2 linked regions of the Homo sapiens genome follow. The protein of the gene in region 1 interacts with the protein of each later gene in a pairwise test. Each region holds a gene or a part of one and is shown on either strand. Other genes may lie near its edges.

Region 1 (7,929 bases):
CAGGCAAAGAGGGTCCAAGGTGTGCTGGGAGCCTGGGCTAGGAATTGATCTCATTTTTGACTTGCAACAAACTCCTCAACCCCATTGTACAGATTTGGAAACTAAGGCTCAGAGAGAGGAACTCGCCCCAGATCACACAGCCAGAAACCGCAGCCCAGAGACTCATACTTGGGTCTGTAAGACTTCAGAGACAGGCCAGGCATGATGGCTTATGCCTGTCATCCCAACACTTTAGGAGACCGAGGCGAGAGGATCGCTTGAGGCCAGGAGTTTGAGACCAGCCTGGGCAACAAAGTGTGATGCCCTCTTTTTTTTTTTTTGAGACAGAGTCTTGCTCTGTCGCCCAGGCTGGAGTGCAGTGGCGCGATCTCGGCTCACTGCAAGCTCCGCCTCCCGGGTTAACGCCATTCTCCTGCCTCAGCCTCCGGAGTAGCTGGGACTACAGGTACGTGCCACCATGCCTGGCTAACTTTTTGCATTTTTAGTAGAGACAGGGTTTCACTATGCTGGCCAGGCTGATCTTGAACTCCTGACCTCATGATCCGCTCGCCTCGGCCTCCCAAAGTCCTGGGATTACTGGCGTGTGCCACCGCGCCTGGCCCCGAAAAACTTTTTATTGTTTGTTTGTTTTGAGGCGGAGTCTCACTCTGTCACCCAGGCTGGAGTGCAATGGTGTGGTCTCAGCTCACTGCAACCTCCGCCTCCTGGGTTCAAGCGATTCTCCTGCCTCAGCCTCCCGAGTAGTTGGGATTACAAGCATGCGCCACCACACCCGTCTAATTTTTGTATTTTCAGTACAGATGGGGTTTCACTATGTTGGCCAGGCTGGTCTCAAACTCCTGACCTCGTGATCCGCCCACCGTGGCCTCCCAAAGTGCTGGGATTACAGGCATGAGCCACCGCGCCTGGCCTGAAAAACTTTTTAAAAAGAATTTTATAAAGAGACTTCAGGGGCCAAGCTCTTTCCAGCCCACCACCAGCAGCCTGGGGTGGGACAGCGACCCTCCATGTGTTGCTGAGAAGGCTCTCTAATCCCACAGGATTGGAGCTGCCTGTTTATTTGTCTAAATTACCGCCCACCAGCCTGTGAGTGCTGGGAAGGCACAGACAGGGCCTGTCCTTGCTGGTCCAACCCACCCCAGCCCCTAGCACCACACGAGGTTCACTGGTTCACTGGCACACAGTAGGTGCATGGCAAATATCTGCCCAAAGAATGAACCTCTGTACTCCCAGTGACTGCCATGGAATGTCGCTCAGTGATGATCTGTTGAATGAACAAGTGAATGAGATGATCTGCCACGGTCCAGGAATGTCTGTGGAAATTCCTCATGCACACAGCAAACAACTCCACCCACCGCCATCCTACCGCACCCGGGCATGGAGGAGCCCCTCATCGGGGGCAGAGCTGGGGGAAGGTCAGGAAAGACTGTTGGGCCTCGGAAAACATCCCACGTGCTAGGTTGGTGCGTTGGGAAAAGTAAAAGTCAGTGCCAGGAGTGCAAGTTCAGGTCAAGACTAGGGAGCTACTGGATGGCCCTGCTGAATATTTTGGGGTGAGAGGCTGAAACAGGAGGACGACAGAGGAGGCTGCCCAGAGTGGGGATGGGGGAGGAGAAGTGCTGGGTGGGTGGGGCAAGAGCAGTGAGGAGCCAGGTCTGGGTGGGGGCTTGACGAGTGACTCAGGAGGGTAGAGGTGCGATGAAGCCAGGAAGGTGAGGCCAGGCAGGCAGTTCCTGGGTAAACACCAGCCTGGTTAGAAAAGTCCCTCTCTTGGCTCAGAGAACAGGGAGGCAGGTATGGGGACTGCCTAGGAGCACCTCGGAGAGAGTGGGGGTGGCTCTGTGGCTCCCCACGGTAGGCTCGGCTCCCCAGATGTGCCCCCACCCACATCTGCCACTAGCTCCCTGCCCACCGACCCCACCCAGTCCTCCTCAAGTTCACTCAGGTCCTCAGGGCCTCTGCTGGCCAAGTGCCTTCTAAGCCTCGGGATTCCTGACCGTAGAATTCCCTTTTCCTCCACCTAAGCTCAGAGTAGGGGACTAGACTGCAAGGGCAGGCCTCTCCCTGCCTCTTGGAGACCTGGGAAGAGGAAAGCTGGGGAACTCGGGTCCCCCAAGGGTGCACTGCATCCCCGCACCACGCACTTTGCAGCTCATTCCACGCAGTCCAGCAACGCCCTGCAGCTATGCATTTTGAGGCCGTGCATTTTGAGTTCCCTTGACCCACGTGGGGCTGGCCTCAGAGAGGTTAACTAGCGTGCCCCAGGTCACACAGTTACTCAGTGAAAGGCAGGGATTGATTCAACTCTTCGGCTGTATGACTCCAAGGCCCGTGGGTGTTCCACACAAGCTTCAGTTCTGTCCCAAAAGTTTTGCTTGTGCCTACCTGGGTCCAAGCTCCCCAAGGTGATAGACGGTGTGGTAAAGTTTCAGCGAGACTCATAGGGTCCCCATCACCACTGAGTGGCCGTTCTGCCAAGCTGGCGCAGAAGGGTTCCCTCGTCCTGCCAAGTTCCCACCCTGCTCAAAGTTTCCCCTCCTGGTCCCCAGGAATGGTAGGCCGGACCATGCCCAGCGAGACTCCAGCACTCGGCAACGTGGCCGAGAGACCCACGGGCTCCCACACGGGCCAGCCCCGCCCCCAGCCCCACGAAGGGTCCTGACTGGTGGCCCCCCTGGATTAGCCCCATGCCGCAGGGTGGCGCCGGCCCGGGGTCCCCGGCGGGCGCCGCCGTCCCGGGCCAGAGTCCCCGCCGCGCAGCCTTGGGCGCCCCAGCCAAGTTGGCGGGAGGCGGCGAGCGGGACCGGGGCGCCCCTAGCCCCTCCGCCCCCGCCCCCCGCCCCTCTGCCCCGCACACTCACCGCCAGCAGCCGCCCGTGCAGCAGCAGCGCCAGCAGCAGCGCGCCCGCCGCCCGCCACCCCATGGCCCGGCCCGCGCCGCTCTCTCGCTCGCTCGCTCCGCGCCGCCCGCTCCGCGCCGCCCGCAGCCGCCCGCTCGCCGGCCAGCTCGGGACAGCGCGGCCCTCTCCCCACCGCCCCCTTTCCTCCCCGCCCGCCCCGCCCCCGCAGCGCCGGCCCCGCCCCCGAACCGCCCCTCCCCGGAGCGCCAGGCCCCGCCCACGGACCGCCCCCGGGCCGCGGGCTCTGCTCGCCCCAGCCGGCCGCGCAGCCTACTAGGCCTTTGTCTGGGCCCCCAGCCCCCTCCGCGCGGGCCGCGGCCCGGCCCGGCTCCCCGCCAAACCCGGCCTGGAGTATGGGATGGGACGGGGCGGGGGACCGGGGGCCCGGGCCCGGGCATGGGATGGGGCCGCCGGGCCAGGCGCTCTCGCCTCCCCGATCCCCGGCTCCCCCGCTTCCCCGCGCGCGCCGCCGACTTCCACGCCCCTGCACGCCCCGCACGGCCGACTCCACTCGCGCAGCTTTTGAAGATCCCGGGATCTCCTTCCCACGCTCACACGCACGCAGCTGCCGCTCCGCGCCACACGTGCACGCCAACTTCCACACCCAAGAACACCTTCACACCATAACTTTACTGCACGAACACACTTGTGCGCTACCCGGGAACACTTTCACACTCTGGACCCAACTCTGAAGTACCAACAATCCTCACCGGCTCACATGCACACTTAACTCGCTTCCAAACTCTCACCTCCACCAGGGACACAGGAGACAGCCCTCACACCACACTCAGCCCCTCACTCACGCATACATCCCAACAAGTCACGGAGCGGGAGGACGCCTTTTCACATAGATTCCTCGCAGGCACGCACATTTCACACACAGGCCCACATCATTGCCTACATGCTTACCAGCTTGTTTTTTTTTTTTTTTTTTTTTTTGAGAAGGAGTCTCGCTCTGTCCCCAGGCTGGAGTGCGGTGGTGGGATCTTGGCTCACTGCAACCTCCGCCTCCGGGTTCAAGCAATTCTCCGGCCTCAGCCTCCTGAATAGCTGGGATTACAGGCGTGCCACCACGCCTGGCTAATTTTTGTATTTTTAATAGAGATGGGGTTTTTACCATGTTGGCCAGGCTGGTCTCGAACTCCTGACCTTGTGATCTGCCCGCCTTGCCCTCCCAAAGTGATGGGATTACAGGCATTGAGCCACCGCACCCAGCCTCAGCCTGTATCTTTTACCTGTTCTCACCCACTAATCACAGTGCCTCATAGTGGGCACTGGGTACTGAACTGAGCTGCCCACCCCACCTGCACCATTTTCCATGTAAATCACTCACACACCAACTTTGAGTCACATAAATCACAGCCCCAGAGCCAGAACCACACCAACTCACACACTCAGGCCCAGACAGACAGACCCTGCCAAAGCCCCATCACAGATGCTCGGGTGGGTGGTAAAATCACAGCCCCATGATCTGTCTCTGACCCAACCGCAGGCAGCAAACAGCACCAAGCCCCCAGACCTATTCACTGCCTACTCTTCAGCTCCCCTCTTCTGCCTGAAATTTCCAGGGCAGCCCGAGGCTGATGGGTGGAGAGGAAAACTATGTGTGTGTAGCTTTGAGGAAAACCTTTTGAGTAATGATAGAGGAGGAGAATAAAACTGAAGTTTCCATTGTTTCCTGTGAGAGTTGCTAGGTTCCAGAAACTCATGGCTGGGTTTGCAGCCAGGAGTGAGGTGAGCTGTGGACAGAAGGAAATGCCCAGCTCACTGGGCGGCACCAGGCCTGGCTCCGGAAGCTATGTTCCCTGTGATAGGGGTCCGCAGGCTCCCAAGCACATTGGGGCCTCTCATCCAGGCATCTGGGGGATTGAAAAAACACTGGCATCCTGACCCCCATCCCAGATAGATCCCCTATCTCCAAAAGATATCTCCAAAATATGCCCTGTGGGGCATATTTCTGTGGGACCAGCTCAGAGTTGTAAAGAACAGAAATTGCATCCACGGTAGTCAGGCCAACTGCCTGGCCCCAACCCAGGCTCCAGGCACAGCACTGAATAAGGTCTATCTCTGATCCGCACAGGGAGATAGGGGTGGACAGAGGAGGGACGCCCAATCTTGGCCCTCAGTAAACTCTTAATCTGATAGAGGTGTGGGGAAGAATAGTCCCTGTCCGGGTATTGTTCTCAGTCTGATAGAGAATCCTGCCTCCACCACCTAGCCGTGCAATCTTGAGCACATGATTCAACTTCCATGTCTCAGTCTCTGCATGTAGAAAATGAGAATAACGTTAAGACGTCTCTCTTAGTGTTGTTATGAGAATTAAGATAAATTAATATATTTCTTTTAAAAAACACAGCCATTTCAGACACTTGGTAAGCATGAAATAAGTGGTAGCCATTTCTCTTATTACTATTTCTGGTGTGCTCCCAATCTAAAGAGAGAGACATGACTTGGCCCTTGGGGAGCTGAGGTCTGATAGAGGAGCAGCCTCCACAGCCACCCCAGGGACCTCCCATTTGAGGGGAGAGTACACCAGGTTTGCACTTGGAAACTCCCTGTCCGATGAGAAAGGCTTCAAAACTCCACTGACTTCAGAGCTGGCAGGTGGCCAGCCCTAGTGGCAGGATTTTTCCAAGGCCTTGCCTGTCCATGGATTTGTCAGCATCCGTGACAAATCGCATTTCATGAGCTGCCTCAGTGTCTGTTCCCTACCTCGGGCCCTTTAAGTACCAGAGCTTTGGCTTCTTGGATGATTTGCTCATGAGCAAAGGGGGAAAAAAAGGGAAACAAGCAACCCTTTGTAGATGTTTGGTCAAGACTAACCCAGAGCTATAAGTCTTCCTTCCTCAAAGGGGTTGAGGAAAGAGATGGTAAGGCCGACTAGGGACTGGAAGGAGCTGGGCTGACACGCAGAAAGCAGGAATATATGGCATGTTGAGAAAGTCTTCCAGGGCGGCTCCAGCAGCGGAGGATTGGTCATCCACCTATTTATTCTGTGTCCTCTCCTTCCCACTAAGGGATTTGCCTGGGTCTGTTTTAGTTTGCAGTCCTTGATATCTTTAGCAAATGCTCTCAAGTTGCTTTGTCTAGAGCCTGGCTATCTCCTCATATGGCTAAGAAGAGGAGCAGGCACAAGGCCTTCTGGGCTTGGCAAAACCTTGGAGGCGCCCATAATCTCACTGTATGTACACAGAGTTCAGGGTGCTGGTCACACTCGAGGAGAGAAACAACTCAAGTCTCATACAAGGTTCCCTGGGCACGGAGAGACTACAACAGCTTGGATAGGCAGAAATAGTCAAACAGCTTGACTTCTGAGAATAGGTGTTGGGGGTTCTGGAACCAGCAGCTGGAGTTTGTGGCTTACCTGTCCACTCCTCCAAATTCAGTAGGACTCATCTTCTGGCTTCCACTCCCATTCCAAATCTTTTCTCTGCCTGAGAGCTTATCATTCATCTTAATCACATTCCTTTGTCCATTCATTCATTCATTCAGGGCTGCAGTGGACAGTTGCGCAGGTTGTTCACTGAACAAAGGTGTGCAGCCAAGTGGGTAAATAGGAACTGTAATGGGCCCTGTTGTGGGGCTACATCTGCCCAGAATGGGTACTTTTTTTTTTCTTTTTGAGACAGAATCTTGCTCTGTTGCCCAGGTTGGAGTGCAGTGGCACGATCTCAACTCACTGCAACCTCTGCCTCCTGGGTTCAAGCGATTCTCCTGCCTCAGCCTCCCAAGTAGCTGGGATTACAGGCACATGCCACCACACCTGGCTAATTTTTTGTATTTTTAGTAGAGACAGGGTTTCATCATGTTGGCCAGGCTGGTCTCGAACTCCTGACCTCAAGTGATCCACCCGTCTCGGCCTCCCAAAGTGCTGGGATTACAGGCGTGAGCCACTGCACCCGGCCCAGAATGGGTACTTTTTGCTGATATGAGTGAAGGCACTGTAAGGCTAGCTGTGGCCCTATATTCATTCAATAGTGAAACTAAACACTGCCCACGAGAGTTTCTATGTCCATGTGGGAAAACAAATGCTAATAGAGTAACAATATGTCCTTGGGTGAAAATGAAGAGTCAGAAATTGGTGTGAAAGAGAATTGAGATGGAGGAGAAAAAACAAGAAGATAGTACTGAAGAAGAGGAGGAAGAGGAGGCAGGAGGTGGGTCTAAGCAGGCAGCAAAAGTTCCCATGGAGAGGGCGGGGACCCCACAAGGCCTGGCATGATCTAGTCCTGCCCATCAATCCAGCCACAGCCCTTCCCCACCATAGTCTTTGCAGATGCTGTTCCCTCTCCTAAGTGCTTTTCCCAGTTAACACCCATCCCCCTTCACTCTACTCTCCCTTAAGATTGAGTCCAAACATCACATGACCACAGAAATCTTCTCTGACCTCCCAAGCGAGGTCGTGTTCCCCACCACACTTTCCCACAGCGCCCCCCCCGCCATGCTTTTCTTGTAGCATTTTTGACCATTGTAATTATTTGGAAGATCATTTAATATTATGAGGCATAATGAAGGCAGAGGGCATGAAGGTCTTGTTTCTGTCTTGGTCCCAATTATATCCCCTGTGAAGAGCACAGTGTGTGGCACAGAGTTGGCATTTGGATAATTGTTACTTAAATGAAAGAACAAGACATTAGTTCAAACGTGGCACACAGTGTAAATGTCCCTGTTCTGGTTTGTGCTTGGAACAAAGATAAACCCTGGGGAGCAGGCAAGGCAGTACATTTTATTATTCCCCTCCCTTTCCAGCTGGGAAAACTGAGGCCCAGGGGATGAAGTGGCTTGCCCAGGTCATGCAGTCAGTAAGAGGTAGAACCAGGATTCATGTCCATGTCGGTCTGATTCTACAAACTCCCATTCTCAACCACACCCATTCTGCCTCCCTGTGGGCTGTTCTCAACTCTGGCCAGGCACAAGTGCGCTTCTCCCAGCTCAGGCAGAAGCGTGAATCTTCTGAAAGCTCTTGTATTTGACCCCCTGCCCCAACTTGATGTTTCCCCACTACCCTTCATCATTATCAATTGCTTTC
Region 2 (7,179 bases), on another chromosome or scaffold:
TCTGAACATCGCATCCAAGAAAAATAAGGCAAATTCCAAAACACAAAAGCAAAAAATACAAAACTTGTTTAAATATTTCGTTGCACTCACTAAGCACAAAAGTTCATATTTTGGGGGGACTGTAGAGAGCTTTAAAGTATACAGAGGGACTTACGACATGACATCTCTTAAGGGAACCCGTTCTCTTTTGACCTCATTAGCATGACGTGTCCTGCACTATGCTGAGGAAGAATGTGCAGAGAGAGCTCCAAGTCTCTCCACAGAACTCCAGGGCAGTCTTCCTCTGGTTTGCCATATCTGGGTCCTCCACACACTCGGGAGCTTTGGTGGCCATGGTCTGGGTCACTGCTAGGCTAGAGGGGGTGGTCTCTTTGCCTTTGATGTGCTCCCTGGGGGACATCTCTGTTTTCTCCTTCCTGGGCTTTGTGTTCCCAAATAGAGTGGAGCTGACTAGCTTAAGACTGGATTCTGGAAAATCCTTTCTGCACACTCTGGTTTTCACAGCTGTCTTGGAATATCTACAGATGTCTTTCTGTGAGCGCAGATTCCGGGCAACTTGTTTCCAATAGACTCTCTCATCCTTGAGCTTTAGGCATGAGGTTGGATTGCCAGCAAAGACACAGGAAAATTCATGGTCCAATTGAGTGCACTCAACCTTGAGAGAGATGCCCTCCTCCTGCTCAGTAGCAGCCCATCTGCAGTTGGCTTGGTCTTTGGTGACAAACTTGCCTTTGTTCCCGGGCCTGCTTTTCTGCTTAATCTGGGTGTTGCCCAGAGTGTCCTTTTGTTCTGAGACCACTTTGCTGTGAAGTCCATTCTTCACTTTTTTTTTCCCCTCCACCAGGAGCACCTGAGCAGCCAGTAGGAGGAAGGAGAGCAGGGTGAGGCTACAGATCTTCATGGCTGCAGCTGGGCGTTCACCTGTTTGACAAAAGGCAAGTGAGTCAGTGGCAGGCAGCAGTTCAGCTGTGCAGGACTACACGCTGGCCTCCCCCTACCCTGACAGGTGCCTACATGATTTCAGAGTAGACCAAGAACGCTTCTGGCTCCTGGAGTCACTAGACAAACAGCCTGTCTACTCACATTTCCACTTGACTTGAGTCTTGAGTGTCACAAAAGTACCACTCTTTGGAGCCTCACGAACTCTCATTTATCATTTATTCACTCATTAACTCCTGCATCTGCTCACTCCTCACTCTTTCATTCACTCATTCAACAAGCATTTACTGAGCACCTACTATATGCCCCCCACCAGACTAGGTGTTGAAGAAATCACCATGATTGAGAAAGCCTCAGATTTGAAAGAGCTTAGAGACCACTCTTTGGGAGAATTTAAATAGCATTGATCAGGGAATCTATCCCGTCATCTCTGTTTCTGATATGAAACAAGTTACTGCTCCAAACTTTCAGCTCCAAAGGGCTGGATTTCTATCTCATGACTCCATATGGACACAGATGCCCAAAATGAGAAAAGACATGACAGATGCCCAAAATGAGAAAGGATGTGGTAAGCATCATGAAAGGTGATGTTGACCCAGAGTTGAACATGCCTGGGGTTTGGGTGGGGTGGGTGGGGTTGTGGGGGTGGGGGAGCTTTTTGTGGGGAAGTAAGAGTTTAAGGAAAGGTGTGAGGTGGGGTGGTTGTCTGATTTGCCTGGGCAAAGTGAATCAGGGTGGAGAGAGGTGAATTTCAACCAGATAGTTCACACTACAAGATCGAAGACAAGGATCATGAGAAATCATTGAATCAATAGGATGAACACCAACGTCACACTGAACTGCATGAATCTGATCATGTGTACAATAAAAACCCATGCTTAACAGAAGAAGAGAAGTCAGTTTCTATATGACACCTCCTGTGTGCTAAGTACTGGTCTAGGGTTTGATTCCCACCTTGTGAAATCCACACAAGAGCTCTTCCAGGTAGCTATTAATATGTCATCCCAGGTGACAGCTCTGACTCTTAAGGCTCAGACAGGTAAGTAAATTGCTCAGGATCTCATAGTGGGCAAGTTCAAAGCTGGTATGGGTAGCCAGATCAATCTCCTTATTCCTTTCTGTCACCCCTGGTTGATCACTTTTTGCTTTTCACATTTACTCTGCCCTTTAAAAACATTGCCAAAGAATAAGAAAAACAACTATGAACAATGACAATTTAGTTTCATATAACACATAATGATAAGATGATTTGTATTATTTGTGCTCCATTTAAAACAAAACACAGAATTTTTTATAAAAAGAGGCAGACCCAGGAAATGGTCCTGATCTGATTTCTACCCTAGAAGTTGGCCATCTTCTAGGGTTAAGAAGGAGAAAGACAATCACAAAAGGGCAGAGAACAGCAATAAATGGTGAAGAGGAGACTGGATATGCCAGAAAAACACCCAGTCATTTCTCACGGCCCTGGGGCTCAGCCCCCACCTGCCCATGATGGAATGCAGGCCCAAGGAACTCCAGGCCCTTGGTGGAGTGAGAAGTGGCAGCAGGTAATAAAGCTGTTAAAGGAGCGAGGCTCTTACCTTGTTCTGAGCACACGGATCCAGTGCAATCCCAGGCAGTGCGAGTGAATTGCAGGCTGCAGCTGTGTCAGGTAGAGTGCAAGGGGGGTAGACTATTCAACAGGAGCCAGGCTGACTGGGTTTTTATAACACTCACTGGGTTTTTACAACACTGTGGCACGTTACTCACAGCTCCTCCCAGCCACGCCCCTCCGAGGGAGCCGGTTCCTGCAGGGAAAGTGCTGGATGTAATCCAGTGAAAAGGGGGGTTACCTGCATGCCATCAAACGCTTCCTCTAGGCCCTTCCCTGTCCACCCTGTGGCCAGGATAGGAGGACAACTCAGCCTCACAGTGACCCTCCTTGATGGGGAGAGGACCCCAGCAGTGATGTCTATGGAGGAGTAAAATAACTATAATGACATGATCCGAGCTGCCAAACTACTGAGCCCATTTTACCTGAGTTCTCCTTTTCCCTCATCACATCCGCTCTAGTAGGGAGTGCAATGATTCCTCCCCTTTTACAAAAGCAGGAATTGGTTCTGGAGATATGTAAGAGCTTGTCCAAGTTCACAGAGGCAGGAAAAGGAACATCTCAAAATTAAAAGTGAGATTCTCTACATCCATGGTCTGATCTCTTCCTGCCTGCCACTCTCAATAAATCTTTGTTGAATGGGTGACTGAAGTTGCCGAAGTTTTCGTAGTGTCTGAGTTCCTTTTTCCATCTGAAGTTACTACATAAGCAGAGGATACCCTAATTCTAGAGGCAGGGAAATTTACATTAAAAATTCCCTCTTTTTTATCAGGGAATTCTACCAGGCTCTGAGAGGCTGGTAAAGAGGGAATTTTTAATATAAGATTACTGTTGTAAATACTTACCTTCAGGTCTCATTCAGAGAGCTCAGGCTGCCCTGCCTGCTACAGGCACAGTCCCACACCAGAATGACCCAGGTGGAATCCTGGCCACAGCATGTGTTTAGCTGAGTGCTATGCCCAAACCACTTAGCCTCTCCCATCATCCATTTGCAGTGTGCTGACAATAACAACGTCTCCTTTATAGCTGCATACTAAATTTTTACTGGGCTAAGCTGTTAACATAAAGTGGAGCAGAATCGTTTTGCCTCATGACAGGGTCTTAAGTTGTATACTTTGAAAACAGACATTTGTTATTTACATATGCAGCATTTAAAAAGAAACTCACTTCTACAGGGAAGATGTGGCCCTCATTATATATTATCACCTCACCTTTCATAGATTTTCAGAAGAAGAAATTGTTCACTTTTCCTTAATTCAGCCATAAGAAAACTATTGTTTAGTGTGATATTAAATGGCAACTGACTTTTGGGTTTGAGATAAGGCAATAGGGAGTGATGGGGACTGTGGCAAACTAGAGAGTCTCTGCCTCCATAGAGGTCAACACTCATCTCCAATTGACTGAGAAAATGCAGGGATTAGGCTCAGTATTGTCACACTGTCTGATTTTTAAAATGACATCCCCAAATCCAGATGTGTTTATATGAAATTGGTTGGCAGCTAATTAAAATTTTCTAAAAATAAAGCTGTAGCTCAACACTATGCAGGCCAAAACTTGTAACTGTGTTTGGATTTTATGAACGATCCACCTGTTTGAGAATTCCGTGGTCATAGCTATAGATGTTGACCAATTTACTCAGAGGCTCAGTCTCTGCATGAATCTGTTGGAAGAAGCCATTTCTGAAGCTGTGTGCCTCTCTCCTAAAATTGCCTCACCCAGGGGTCCGTCCTCACTATCCTCACAAACACCCCGCTGAGGCCCTGACCTCCACGAACAGGCTCTCTCATGCGGTATTTTGGAGGATTATTTGGACATAGGCAAGGCAAAGCTGCTTTGCTCAACAAGGGGAGTCTCCTACAAAATGGAAAATTCTACTTGATCCTTGGGAGGCAGGCAGATTCTTTCTGGAGGCAGATTGCAGTTGGAACACAAAACATATTTACAAGGAAACATGTGGACTCCGGGGTCTTTCTGGGAAGTGCTTCTCTGAGCTTTGCCAGGTAACACTGCACATTCCCCACTGGCTCCTTGTGGCCCTTCCCCTTCCTGTGACTCCCATCCCAGCGTCTGCTTTGCTCTTTCCCTTCTAGACTCAGCAGCACAGCATCAGAGCAGGCTGTGGGGCAGTCACCTCCTTGGCTCATCCTGCCCTTCCAACCTCATTTCCAGGTACTCACACGCAGACACATAAATACACATACACACTGACACACATACAAAGACACACACAAACACACACTGACACACTCAAACACACACAAACACACTCAAAGACACCACACTCATAGACACACAGAGACACACACATACTGACACCTAGACACATTCACACACATACTCATAGGCACACACACACAGAATCACACACAGTGACACTGACACACACACAGAGACAGACACACACACACATGCACACACACACTGCAATCTGGCCACACTGAAACCCTGTCCCACCATTTGCAGATACTCCATGCATGCGCCCACTTCCTGCCTTTGCCTCTGCTGTTCCCTGCACTTGGGATCCCCTTCCCTTCCTTCTCTGCCTGGCACACACCGCCTCATCCTTCAAGGCCAGGCTCCAATGCGAGCCCCTCTCTGTTGGTGTCATTGGCTCCTGACGCCCTGCATGCCACCCACATCTTTAAGAATGTCCACGGGGAGAAATGGCACACTTCCTCCAATGAGCTTACAGCGTGCCAGGCACTGTGCTAAGGCTGTTTCCCAAGCTTTCTTCGTATCTCCATGAACTAAGGAAACGATGTCCTTTTCCAGTGGCTCTGGGGAGACTGCAGAGGACATGGAGCCCCAGCCACGCAGTGCATAGCAGGTTCCAGTAACTTCAGGCCCCTCCACCTCCCCATGCTCCCAGCACTGAGGGGCTCTGTAATTCTTGGGGATGAGTACATAAAGGCCCATTGCACAAGAACCCCAGGAGGAAAGTCGGCCCAGGTCCTCATGGGACAGATGTGGAGGCAAGGCTTAGGGGGACTAAGCACAGTGTCTGACACACAATTAGAGAAGAATTATCTGGAGGCCGCTGCTATCATTCTAAACACAAATGAGGCAGTGTACGCATACACTGATAAATTGTGGAATTCTCCTCTCTTTGCCCCTTCATACCTTCCCTTTAAATTTTTTTTTAAAGTTTTAGAATAATTTTAGGTTTACAGAGAATTGCAAAGATAGTTATCATTCCAATTCTCACCTGGGTTCCCTATTTACCTGTTACATTACTATGGTACGTTTGTCACAACTGACAAACATTGATACATTATTGTCAATTGAAGTCCATACTTTATTCAGACTTGCTTAGGATTTACCTGTTGTTCTAGTTTTTATTATTATTATTATTATTATTGACAGACTTTATTTTTTAGAGTAGTTTTATGCTCATAGCACAATTGAGTGGAAAGTATCAAAAGTCCCATATACCCCTCCCCACACGCAGGCACAGTCTCCCCTACCTTCAACATCATGAACCAGGGTAGTACATTTGCTGTAAGTAATAAACCTACATTAACATGTCATTATCACCCAATGTCCATCATTTCCATTAGGTTCACTCTAAGTGCTGTACATTCTTTGGGTTTTGAGAAATGTATAATGACATGCATAATATCAATTAACTAAGAAAGGTATAATGACGGTACCCACCACTATGGTATCATACAGAATAGTTTAGCTGCCCTAAAAATTCTCTGTGTTCTGCCTACTTACCACTCCATCCCCTACAACCCCAGGCAATGCTCATCCTTTTGCTGTCTCCTCAGTTTTATCTTTTTAAGAATTTCAAATAGTTGGAATCACACAATATGTAACCTTTTATATTGACTTTTTTACCTAGTAATATGCACTTAAGGTTTCTCTATGTTTTTCATAACTTGATAGCACATTTCTCTTAAGTGCTGATAAAATTCCAAAGATTGGATATATCCAAGTCCCTTTATTCATTCACCTACTACTAAAATTCCATTGATTGGATGTACCCGAGTTCATTTGTTCATTCATCTAGGACATTTTGGATGCCTCTAAATTTTGACAGTGATGAATAGAGCTGCTATAAACATGCATGTGCAGGTTTGGTGTAGAATTAAATTTTCAGCTCCTAATGTTCTTTTTCTGTCCAGGATCCCAACATGACACCAGGTTGCATTTAGTGATCGTGACTTTTTGGGTTCTTCTTGGCTATGGCTGTTTCTCAGATGTTGCTTGTTTTTGATGACTATGGCAGTTTGCAGAAGAATTGGTTAGGTGTTTTGAGAATGTCCTTAATTTGGAAATTGTCTGGCATGTTCTGGTTAGATTGGGATCATGTTATTCTTCTCATGATCACACAAAACTTAAATGATGAATACTTTCTTTGGGATTGTGAAAGGAAGTCTGAACACAATTGGTAAAAACACACTGGCTAAGGCTGGTAATTGAATGCATGTCTGGTCACCAGCTGGGGATTTGAAGTTCAAAAGCTGATTTTACTCTCATGCCTGTTACTACCACATAGCTTCTTGACCTAGAGGCCTGGCCCTACTTATGCAGTCACCAGAGATTATTCATATAATGGGTGCAATTTGGTTCTGAGGTAAGTCTTAACTGTGCCAAACTTATTGCCAGGCCAAAGTTGTCAAAAATCAACCCTTCCTTCAAACGTT

Evidence for each region. The genes of interacting proteins can lie anywhere in the genome.
Region 2: the proteins of HSPG2 (region 1) and FGFBP1 interact in a two-hybrid assay, tested with the Homo sapiens proteins (one study listed by BioGRID).

What each region holds. Positions count from the first base shown.
Region 1 is NC_000001.11:21,934,294-21,942,222, forward strand, and holds the start of HSPG2 (basement membrane-specific heparan sulfate proteoglycan core protein isoform b precursor), read right to left. Parts: upstream 3,018-7,929; 5' UTR 2,925-3,017; coding exon 2,862-2,924; intron 1-2,861. UniProt on the Homo sapiens protein: Integral component of basement membranes. Component of the glomerular basement membrane (GBM), responsible for the fixed negative electrostatic membrane charge, and which provides a barrier which is both size- and charge-selective.
Region 2 is NC_000004.12:15,935,732-15,942,910, forward strand, and holds the start of FGFBP1 (fibroblast growth factor-binding protein 1 precursor), read right to left. Parts: upstream 3,010-7,179; 5' UTR 2,956-3,009; intron 2,741-2,955; 5' UTR 2,520-2,740; intron 922-2,519; 5' UTR 902-921; coding exon 197-901; 3' UTR 1-196.